3 linked regions of the Homo sapiens genome follow. The protein of the gene in region 1 interacts with the protein of each later gene in a biochemical or structural test. Each region holds a gene or a part of one and is shown in the gene's direction. Other genes may lie near its edges. The genes, in order: RIMS2, DGKK and RASSF6.

Region 1 (3,754 bases):
ACAGACAGAAGCCTTTGGCCCCAGCACCGGCCCAGCCCGTCTCTAGACGATTCTTGCTCCTTTCACCCTCACAGCCTCCAGTGGTCGCTTCATCTTCGCACCCTCCCGGCCAACCCTAACTCTCCTCGTCTCTCCTCGCGCTGTCTCGCGTCCTCCCCTCAGGATCCTTCCGCACATTCTCAGCGTCCAGCGCGGTTTCCCACAACTTCCTCACGCCCCGCTCCCCTCGCCCTGTCCCCGCCCTCGACACCACCTGCGTTCCCCACTCGCTCCAACCTCCCTCCCCCGCTATCCCCACTTGTGGGCCTCCAGCTCTCTGCCCCTTTCCTGGCCCCCATCCCTGACACCCCAGGGACCCTTCCTCCCTCCTCACGTTCTCCCTCCTTCCAGGATCCCGCCCCGACACTTCGGGGCCCTCCCGCTACGCGCACTCTTTCTCCTCAGGTCCTGACACCTGGGCGCCCCCTCCCTGTCACCCACCTTCAGCTCCAGCCCTGACTCTCGGGCGCCTTGCCACCCTTACGCTCCCCGCCCCGCCCCGGTCCCTCGGGCGCCCCCACTCGCCGCCTCTACCTCCCTACCTGCTACACCTGGCACCCCTGCCCCCACCCCTGCTCATACTCTTCCCCCGCCCCCGACACCTCGGGCGCCCCCTCACACGCTCCTATTCTCCACACTTCCGTCCCCGAAAACTCGGGCGCCCTCTCCCTTCACGCTCAGTCTCTCCTCCCTCCCCGCCCGGCCCCGGACCCAGCCTGGAGATCGCGCTCGGGAGGGGCGGCTGCCGCCCGCGGGGCGCCCGCGGTGCCCGGGCCTGGGCAGCGAGGAGGTGACGCCGCCCCCGCGGGATGAGCCCGGGAGGCGGAGGGGCGGAGGAGGTGCTGGCGGCGGCACTGAGCGGCGGCGGCGCAGGGCGCGCGGGCCTTCCGCGCCGACTCCATCGACCCAAGGGGCGGCGGCGGTGGCGGCGGCTGAGCGACCCTGGGCCGGGCGCGTGATGAGGAGGGGCCGGCGCCAGACCCCGCTGCACGTCGGAGCTCGCCTGGATCCGGGCGTTGGCAGCCGAAGGGCCCTGGCCCCGGGACTCTCCGCCGCTAGCCCCCGTCATATCTTCTCCGCTTTCGCTTCTCCACTCTAGCCGGGGGTGGGGTGGGTGGGGTTGGGGTCTCCGCGGGGGTTTCCGGCCCCGCGGCCCGCTCCCGGGTGTGCCTGGAGGAGTTCTCCCTCTGTGGCGCGCGGGAGCCCTGTGATGCGTCAGCCGGCGGGACGGATGAGTTGCTTCTCCGGGAAACCGTCCTCGCTTCCTCACGACCCTCTCGGCTCCCGCCTGGGTGCCCCTCGGGCCGGCAGTACTCCGCCTCCGGGCGCTCGAAGCGAGTTCCCCGGGGGCTTGTTCGCAGGCACCCCTTCCCCTCCGAGGCGGCGCGCGCGCTCCCGGCCCTGACCGCGGCCGGACACACTCGCGCCCCGGTCCGCCTGTCGCCCTCCCGCCTGCTCCCTCCAGTCACCCCACCCTTAGCTGTCCCCGCCACCTTACTCCACCACCCTCCCCCGCCTCTCCGCGCACTCCGCGTCCCGGCCTCCAGTTCCCCTTTCCCTTGAACCGCTCACTTCACAGCCCTTCGCCCCCGGGAAGAAGAAACATTTCCCGAAGCGCACTCCTCAGCCCTCCTTCCCCACGCGCTCGCCCTCCCCTCCCCCTGCTTTTCTTGGGGGAGGGGGGCTGTCGCCTTGGATTGAAGGCCATTGATTTGTATGTATTTGTCCCAGCGCTGGAGGCTGCCCCAGCCGCCGCGCCGGTGCCGCCGCTGCCAGTGGAGTTGCCTCCCCGCTTCCCTAGGGTGGTTCGGCTCCACCAAACATGTCGGCTCCTGTCGGGCCCCGGGGCCGCCTGGCTCCCATCCCGGCGGCCTCTCAGCCGCCTCTGCAGCCCGAGATGCCTGACCTCAGCCACCTCACGGAGGAGGAGAGGAAAATCATCCTGGCCGTCATGGATAGGCAGAAGAAAGAAGAGGAGAAGGAGCAGTCCGTGCTCAAGTAAGGACCTGGCTCCATATTCCCGCCTCTCTCCCTGCCCTCCGCCCCCTCGCCCACTGCCCTGCGGCCGCCTGCGCGCCCCAGTTCGCCGCCCTCCCTCCCGCTGGCGGCGCCCAGGCCACGAGGGCTGCGGCCAGCGCCGGCCGCCCGGGCTGTTTTAGGGGTGTCTGAGAGCAGGGGTGTGTGTCGGGGAGGGAGGGCGCCAAGGCCGGCTGAGGTGAGGGTGGCGAGCCTTAGGCGGTGTGATTTTCCTTGGCGCCTTTCCGGATTTCCTCGCTGGTCATCTTGGCTCCGGGGCCCCAGCGGGACTGGGGCTGAACCCAGGCTCTGTGCGTACCCTCTCCTTTCCCGCCGCGCTGAGGCAGTGACTGGGGCACAGAATCCAATATGGCCGTGCACAGGTGCTCCCTGGACGGACCCGGGCGAAGGCGCGCTGGCAGGGGATGCGGACGCCACCCTGGTCCCACGCCTCCGCGGGGCGGCTCTACCAGCAACGCGGGACAGAGCAGGGCTGCCCACAGTGGCTGCGAGCAGCGGGCGGCGGCGCGGGCTAGGGGCCTAAGCTCTGTCGCGGTCGGGTGGGTGTGCGTCCGCCGCCATCTTCCAGCCCCTCCCCCTCGGCGAGTGCTAACACCCTGCACTCTGCTGCTCTTCCTGTTTGCAACTAGTAAATCTGTTTAATCCTGAAGAGACTCCAGTTCCTACCATCACTGCAGTTTGGGATGCTCCCTACCTTGTGAAGTTCTACTATTCTTGCTCACGGTCTTGGCAGGCCGGGTTTTTCTGAGGGTGGTAGGAGTGAAAGCAGCACCCAGGCATGCGTTTACCGGCTCTGGAACTTCAGCACCAGGGAACTGTCCAGACAGGGTTATCTTTAGCTCTGAGACTACTTTTCTGGTTAGCGTAGCAAAGAGATTTGTTTCTACAAGGTTTGCTTTTGAATGTTTTATGGTTATTTGATTTCTCAGTTACTTTGTGAAAGAGGTTATTCAGAAGATGTGTAACCTTTTTATGTTTTTCCAGCTTGGCTTTTTTCTTTTTACTTGAAATGAGTTATTCAGATGATTCTTTTGCGTTTTGTCAAGTATACGTTTCCCATATTCTCCACAGAAATATACAATTGAAAGTGTAGAGTTCCTCTGTGAAGGAACTAATACACTCACCTCTATTCAGGTACATTTTAAAAGCAGGTTGTTGAATTTAGTAGTCTTTCATGTACTAATAAAGAAACAGGTTTCATTGTCAATAGGTATATATTTTCATATTTTAATGAAAAATACCACTTTAAATAATTTATAGTAGCAAACATCAAATATTCACAAATCTTAGAGAAAGATACTATTTCTCACAAAATATTGAGTGGCTAAAAGAGCAAATATGTTCCTGAAATAACTGAAATTAAGAATGTCTTCATGAAAGCTAATTTCTGGCGTTGAATACTTATTTGGGAATGTTATTTATTAACAGCCTTCAGATATGAAGAAATTAAGAGACTTAAGCAGTTTACTCTAACTAATAGAAGAATAAAGCATTATTTTTAGAAGCTTTTTGAGCATACTTCTTACTGTGCTTAACTTTTTTTTTGTATACTAACAATGCCAAGCTTTTGATGACTTGCAGTTTGATATTTAAATATGTGAACTTAATGCCTTTTACTATAATTGATAAAAATCAGTGCGGCCAAAATGATGCTCCAGTAAAATGTAGTTTTATTTTT
Region 2 (3,654 bases), on another chromosome or scaffold:
TAATTAAGTGTTATATGCATTTGCAGTTATTATTGTTATTATTATAAATAATTAATAAATGTTAGTTGTTGTTATTACAGAGGACTTGCTTTTTTTCACTGTTGCCCTTAACAGTAAATGGTTGAAGATACTAAAAACTAAAATGGTCACTAGGGGACTAGGCAGCAAATCTAAGGACATCTGTCTCACCAGTTCTCCCTCTTTAGAATATCGGCAGCAGCCAAGTTCTGCCACACTCACTCATTCTGAGTTCCATTAAGAAGATCAGTTTGGACATTAGTTAGAGAAACTCCAATCTCTGGACTGTGGTTGAGGGAGGCAAATCTCATGTGAGAGATGTAAGGTCAGTATGGTAATGAATAAAAAAGTAATCTAAGATTAAACAGCTAAACTGTATCCATTTAATTTCTCAAAAGGACACAGCTAGAAATTATTTATGTTTTCTTAAATAATTTATTTAAGAAAACAATTTTTATTCCTGTCTCCAACCCGCATTCTTGCCCCCACACTTCACCATTGGCTCAAATTTATGTCTGAGCTCTCATGGATCTACCTAATGAATTTTGATCAATAGTGCACTGGCAAAGTGTTTAACAACCTCCTCTCTTGGGGGAGAAAGCCCTGATTCATTTATGGTGTAAACCCTTCCACCATGGCCTATTTAAGTTAGTGATATAATGCCATTGAATCTGGAGTTGGAAAGAGATATGCATAATCAGTTTACATGAGCTGGTGCCAACTGGCTATGGCACACCACTGGTTTTGATGCTGACACCCTAGATGGACACAGGAGACTTGACAAATAATTTGGCTTTTTTGTTATGTACATATCTACCCTCTTTTATCAGTCTTTCCTTCCAAATGTGTGGTCATTTTCCCCTTTGATGTCGGACATCACTGAGAGCAGTTGTGCAGACTTAACTGTCATGGCACGTTTGTGTCTAGGATATTCAAAAGTTCTTTATAGGAGTAAACAGTATTTCCCTTAATACTACATATGAAGAAAATATGGGCCACTCATACATAAGGCCTCCAAAGATGACTAAAATCATCAATGTTGCTTCTTTATTATGAGTTCCAATCCCACTGAAGCTTCCCAACTGGCGAGGCACTCCCTCTTACAGCTAATAAGCTAGTTGTTCACACAAAAGGATATCTACATGTGCCTCTCAAAAATGTTATAGTTAGTGCCCAGTGTGGAGGGGGCCTTCCCTCACTGGTTTTCCATCATGCAGATTCATCTTCATGCCCAATTGATAGCGGCACTTCTTTCCTGCACCAATGTCTGTCCTCTTCTTTGAATAATTTCAGACGCTTCAAAGAAAAATGTGTCATGAACAACTACTTCGGAATTGGACTGGATGCTAAAATTTCTCTGGACTTCAACACCAGAAGAGATGAACACCCAGGGCAATACAAGTAAGGAAAAGAAACTCCCTTCCCTACATGCAAACACACTATCACAATACACATACGTATTCCTACATTCTCTACCTCTCAGACAAGCAACAGAAAGAAAGGGACCCACTGGAAGTAAAATGCATTGGCCCCAAGACTAGTCTAGCGGGACAGTGTGTGCCAAATTTTGGATGACTGCACTGGCATCCTAAACTTGAGCTGCCTTCAAATCCAGACCTGTGGATTTCTGTGTAAACACAGCTACCTGTGTTACTGTTACTGACAACAGATTATGTTGACTCAATTTAGCAAATCGCCCACCTTTGTTCTGTCTGTGAAAGTTTAACCAGGTTTCAGTAGTGGCTTCAGATCTGTTTTCACTTGACAAAGTTGCAAAGTATCAAACATCCCTCTATTTGTTTTTGGTGTTCCTAACCTGGTTCCCCTGAACCCGTTAATTTTACCCTATCCAGTGTTGGCCTGCATGGCACCTTCTCGCACTTTCATACTTCAGACAAGGCCTAAGTCAGTCTCAGAGTTCTTGTGGTACATTGAAGCTATAAGTAAAAAGTGTGACACCCCACCCCACAACACCCCACCCTTGCCACCACCACTAGAACCTCTTTCTCAAAGCAGGCCTGGGCTGAGAAACAGGAACTTTGTCAGATATGTGATTTGCAAATATTTTCTCCCAGTCTCTTGCTGGTCTTTTCATTTTCTTAGTGGTATCTTTGAAATACAAAAGTATTGAATTCTAAGGCGGTCCAATTGATCAGTTTTTTTCTTTATGGACCATGCTTTTGGTGCCATCTGTAAGAAATCTTTGCCTAATCTGAGATCTTAAAAATTTGCTCCTAAGTTTTCTTCTAAAGTTTGTATTGTTTTAGCTCTTATTAATACATTTAAGTGTATGATCTACTTTGAGTTAATTTTTACGTATAGTGTGAGGGTCTAAGGTAAGAGTCTAAGTTTATCTTTTTGCCTGTGGATATCTAATTATCTCACCACCATTTTAATTTATTTATTTGTTTATTTTTTTTATTTTCTTGGAGACGGAGTCTTGTTCTGTCGCCTAGGCTGGAGTGCAGTGGCATGATCTCGGCTCACTGCAACCTCTGCCTCCTGGGTTCAAGTAATTCTCCTGCCTCAGCCTCCCAAGTAGCTGGGACTACTGGTGCATGATACCATGCTTGACTAATTTTTTGTAATTTAGTAGAGACGGAGTTTCACCATTTTGCCCAGGCTGGTCTCGAATTCCTGAGGTCAGGCAATCCGCCCGCCTCAGCTTCCCAAAGCGATAGGATTATAGGCATGAGCCACCGCGCCCGGATCTAGAGCCATTTTTCAAAACAGCTATCCTTTCCCCAGTGAATCGTGTTGGCACCTTTGTCAAAAATCAATTGACCACAAATGCAAGGGTTTATTTCTGGACTCTCACTTCTGTTCTATTTATTTATGTGTCTATCCTATGCAAGTACCACACTATCTTGATAACTATAGCTTTACAGTAGTTTTTGAAATTGGGAGATGAAAGTCCCCCACTTGATTCTTTTTTTCAGAATTGGTTTGTTCTAGGTATTGTACATTTTCATATACCTAAACTCCTATTTTTGTAGATGAGAACACCAAAGTGCCCAGAGAATGAATGGTTTAAACAGTGTCTCAATAATTTTGTGCTAGCCTTCTGACATTTCAAAACTCATTCCATGTGATGATGGCTCATTTCTGTGGCTCTACTTTACAAGCTCCAAGTAAACTATATCCAGCCTTTCTAGTGATCGTAAGTGCCCCACCTATTTCTATCAGAGATTCCACAGTCAACAAGACGCTGTCCTCCCCACCTCCACCTCAAGTCACCTGATATCCTTTCCTGTCTCCTATTTTTCTCCACTGGCTCCTCCTCTAAAATCTCCCTACAAGCTTAGATCTGTTCCATGGCATTGAATTAGGCATTTAGTATATGGATCTGGTGTTTGGAAAAGTACTTCACTTTGCCAGAAAAGTTGCTGCTTCAAAAAAAATTGCACTCTAAGAGTCACGTGTTTCAAATGAAATTGATTCCAAGCAGCTGAAATCTCCTGGAGTAGCACAACTAGGGTAGCTGGTGTGTACCAGCCAGCTACGCTCATAGCTTTTTATGAGCATTGATGTCTGAATATAGCCTGTTTCTTCCAAGTCTGGACCAATATTGGTAGCAAGCAGAAATGGAAAATTTATTTATTGATAGGATACTGAGGCTTCAAAGGGGCCCAGGAA
Region 3 (3,654 bases), on another chromosome or scaffold:
AAGCTGCTTAAAAGAACACATAATATTCAAAAACAACAAAGAAAAACAAACAAAAACAAAACAAATTTTTTAAATTAATGACCTTGGATTTTTTTTGCCCTATAAGAAGATTATGTTCAAGATATTGAATACCCTTAATATAATATAATTTTAAAGACTTATGTGACAATTCTTTTTCTAGACATCAATTTTCATTCCAGCCTTTGAATCAGAAACTAAGGTCAGAGTAAACAGTAACATGAGAACTGAAGAAGTAATAAAGCAACTTCTCCAAAAATTTAAGGTAACCTTTATCACTTAACTGAGCTATAAATATATTATATATAATTCAACTATAAACACACAAATCCACTCTTCTGAAACAGATCTATAAAGGTGTAAATCTAAATTGGATGTTGAGCACTGAAAGATTCTTTCCTTTGTATAACACCTTTTAGTAACTATCCCTTGAAAAATTATATAATTCCCATAAGAGCAGAGAAGATTTTATGTCTAAAAGTGAAAAATGGAAGAGAGAAAACAGACATGATTTGGGTCTGGTCAGGTTAGAAAACATCATATAACAACAAAGAATTTATATTTGTTCATTTTTTCCCTTGACAGATTGAAAATAGTCCCCAGGATTTTGCTCTTCACATTATTTTTGCAACAGGAGGTAAGAAAGCTTGATCACACTTTTTACCTGACTCTAGAGTGCTACAGTTTGCTGCCCAGGGGGAAGGCAGAAGAACAGTTTGCCTCATTCTGTGGAGAAAGGGGAGGAATGGGTAGGAGAAAAGGAAGGAGTGGTCTTTAGAACATTATCTATAGTCCACAATTTTAAAGAAAGATAACTTAAGAATAAGGTATCCCTGAAGGGTTGATTATATGAAAGAGTTTGCTTGTTGGCCAGACATTAAATTATCTAAATGGAGATCAAAACCCTCTGGAACTGTTTCGGCACTTTTGTCTTTGCTCACCTCTGTAACTTTCTTTTTGGCTTTCCTTTCTGAGTGTTGCTCTTAGAGGAGTCATGATTGCATACCTGTTCTCTCTGACATTGATATTGCCTCTTTTTTAGCACAGGGTCTGACACATTGCGGGAGTGCTATCTCTTCCTCAGTAGAGATGCATATTCAGAACTTCGTGGTGAGGGGTGAAAGGTTAGAAGCAGAACATTGGGAAGGCGCTGTAAGTGGGATGCTAGGAGCATAATAGAGAGAATAGAGAAAACTTAAAGTGATACTGAAATGAAAGTTTTTAAAACTTCACAAATGAAAAATTTTATATATCAATTTGTAGAAAAAACTCATGCTATAATTTAAGTGTCAGAATGTTCAAGCCAGAAATTTATTAGAATAAAATAATACATTTTGATGCCAGAACACCTTAAGAAAATGAAAGCTGTATCTCTAAACATATATAAAATTAAAGTTCTTATAATTGAAAGCTTAAAGATCTATAATTAAAGACTTAAACGTTAGACCTAAAACCATAAAAACCCTAGAAGAAAACCTAGGCATTACCATTCAGGACATAGGCATGGGCAAGGACTTCATGTCTAAAACACCAAAAGCAATGGCAACAAAAGCCAAAATTGACAAATGGGATCTCATTAAACTAAAGAGCTTCTGCACAGCAAAAGAAACTACCATCAGAGTGAACAGGCAACCTACAAAATGGGAGGAAATTTTCGCAACCTACTCATCTGACAAAGAGCTAATATCCAGAATCTACAATGAACTCAAACAAATTTACAAGAAAAAAACAAACAACCCCATCAAAAAGTGGGCAAAGGACATGAATAGACACTTCTCAAAAGAAGACATTTATGCAGCCAAAAAACACATGAAAAAATGCTCACCATCACTGGCCATCAGAGAAATGCAAATCAAAACCACAATGAGATACCATCTCACACCAGTTAGAATGGCAATCATTAAAAAGTCAGGAAACAACAGGTACTGGAGAGGATGTGGAGAAATAGGAACACTTTTACACTGTTTGTGGGACTGTAAACTAGTTCAACCATTGTGGAAGTCAGTGTGGCGATTCCTCAGGGATCTAGAACTAGAAATACCATTTGACCCAGCCATCCCATTACTGGGTATATACCCAAAGGACTATAAATCATGCTGCTATAAAGACACATGCACACGTATGTTTATTGCGGCATTATTCACAATAGCAAAGACTTGGAAGCAACCCAAATGTCCAACAATGATAGACTGGATTAAGAAAATGTGGCACATATACACCATGGAATACTATGCATCCATAAAAAATGATGAGTTCATGTCCTTTGTAGGGACATGGATGAAATTGGAAATCATCATTCTTAGTAAACTATCGCAAGAACAAAAAACCAAACACCGCATATTCTCACTCATAGGTGGGAATTGAACAATGAGAACACATGGACACAGGAAGGGGAACATCACACTCTGGGGACTGTTGTGGGGTCGGGGGAGGGGGGAGGGATAGCATTAGGAGATACACCTAATGCTAGATGACGAGTTAGTGGGTGCAGCACACCAGCATGGCACATGTATAGATATGTAACTAACCTGCACATTGTGCACATGTACCCTAAAACTTAAAGTATAATAATAATAAAAATAAAATAAAATAAAATAAAGATCTATTTTTTGGAAAATTCTAAGGACACATATATATTCATATTCTAGTTGTTTAGGAAAGAAAGAAAACCAAAAGATATAAAATAAATGGTAGCAATACTGGACTGTGTAACAATTTAAAAGATACAAATAGTAGATTACAAAGAATATTGTCAATGTACTCCAAAGATTAATAACTATAATACCAATAATTTCCTACAAAATGGTAACAAAACAACAGACAATCCGATAAAAATAGAAAAAAGCATGAAAATACAATTGAAAGGAAAAACCATAATAACCAGTTAAATAGTTTTAGAAAAGTCTTAAATTCAGTGAAATGCAAGTAGCTAAGGAAATGCAAGCTCAAGCCACACCGTAATATTATCTTGCACTTCTCAGATTGGCAAAATGCTTTAAAATGATTCTACCCATGGCTGGCATGCATCAGGGTAAAAAGATATTTTTATGCAACACTAGTGAAAATATGACTTTCTTCTTATTGGAATTTATTCTTGCAATATTTATTAAAATTTACAGTATATATGTCCTTTAACTTGACCATTCCATTTGTGAGAATCTATCCCACAAAAATATAAGCACTAGTGCCTACAGATTTATGTGTAACACTGTTTATAAGGACAAAAAGCTAAAGACAAAGTTACTCATCCTAGGGAAATGATTAAATAAGTGATTGTTAGGCTGCCATTGAATGGAATGAGTAGATTTATGCCAATAGAATGGAGGGAGTTCCATAATATATTTTAAGTGAGAAATGCAAGATGCCTAAAGGTATATATAAAAGATCCCATTTTTTAAACAGTTACAAGCTCCCATTTAAGTATGTGGTATATATGGTCTTATGACTAGGGAGAAAGGTATGGAGTGATAAATACAAAACCATTGAGATAGATTACCTGGTGGGGGATTGGGGAAATGCAGATGAGAGGATGAGAAGGGGGGTGTCAGGCACGGTGGCTCATGCCTGTAATCCCAGCACTTTGGCAGGCCGAGGTGGGCGGATCATTTGAGGTCATGAGTTTGAGACCAGCCTGAC

The links.
Region 2: the proteins of RIMS2 (region 1) and DGKK interact in a test that uses a peptide from one of them, tested with the Homo sapiens proteins (one large-scale study listed by IntAct).
Region 3: the proteins of RIMS2 (region 1) and RASSF6 interact in a test that uses a peptide from one of them, tested with the Homo sapiens proteins (one large-scale study listed by IntAct).

Annotation. Positions count from the first base shown.
Region 1 is NC_000008.11:103,499,026-103,502,779, forward strand, and holds the start of RIMS2 (regulating synaptic membrane exocytosis protein 2), read left to right. Parts: upstream 1-1,584; 5' UTR 1,585-1,861; coding exon 1,862-2,037; intron 2,038-2,374; exon of another isoform or gene 2,375-2,663; intron 2,664-2,770; exon of another isoform or gene 2,771-2,885; intron 2,886-3,754. UniProt on the Homo sapiens protein: Rab effector involved in exocytosis. May act as scaffold protein. Plays a role in dendrite formation by melanocytes.
Region 2 is NC_000023.11:50,380,261-50,383,914, reverse strand, and holds part of DGKK (diacylglycerol kinase kappa), read left to right. Parts: intron 1-1,311; coding exon 1,312-1,419; intron 1,420-3,654. UniProt on the Homo sapiens protein: Diacylglycerol kinase that converts diacylglycerol/DAG into phosphatidic acid/phosphatidate/PA and regulates the respective levels of these two bioactive lipids.
Region 3 is NC_000004.12:73,578,818-73,582,471, reverse strand, and holds part of RASSF6 (ras association domain-containing protein 6), read left to right. Parts: intron 1-181; coding exon 182-283; intron 284-603; coding exon 604-655; intron 656-3,654.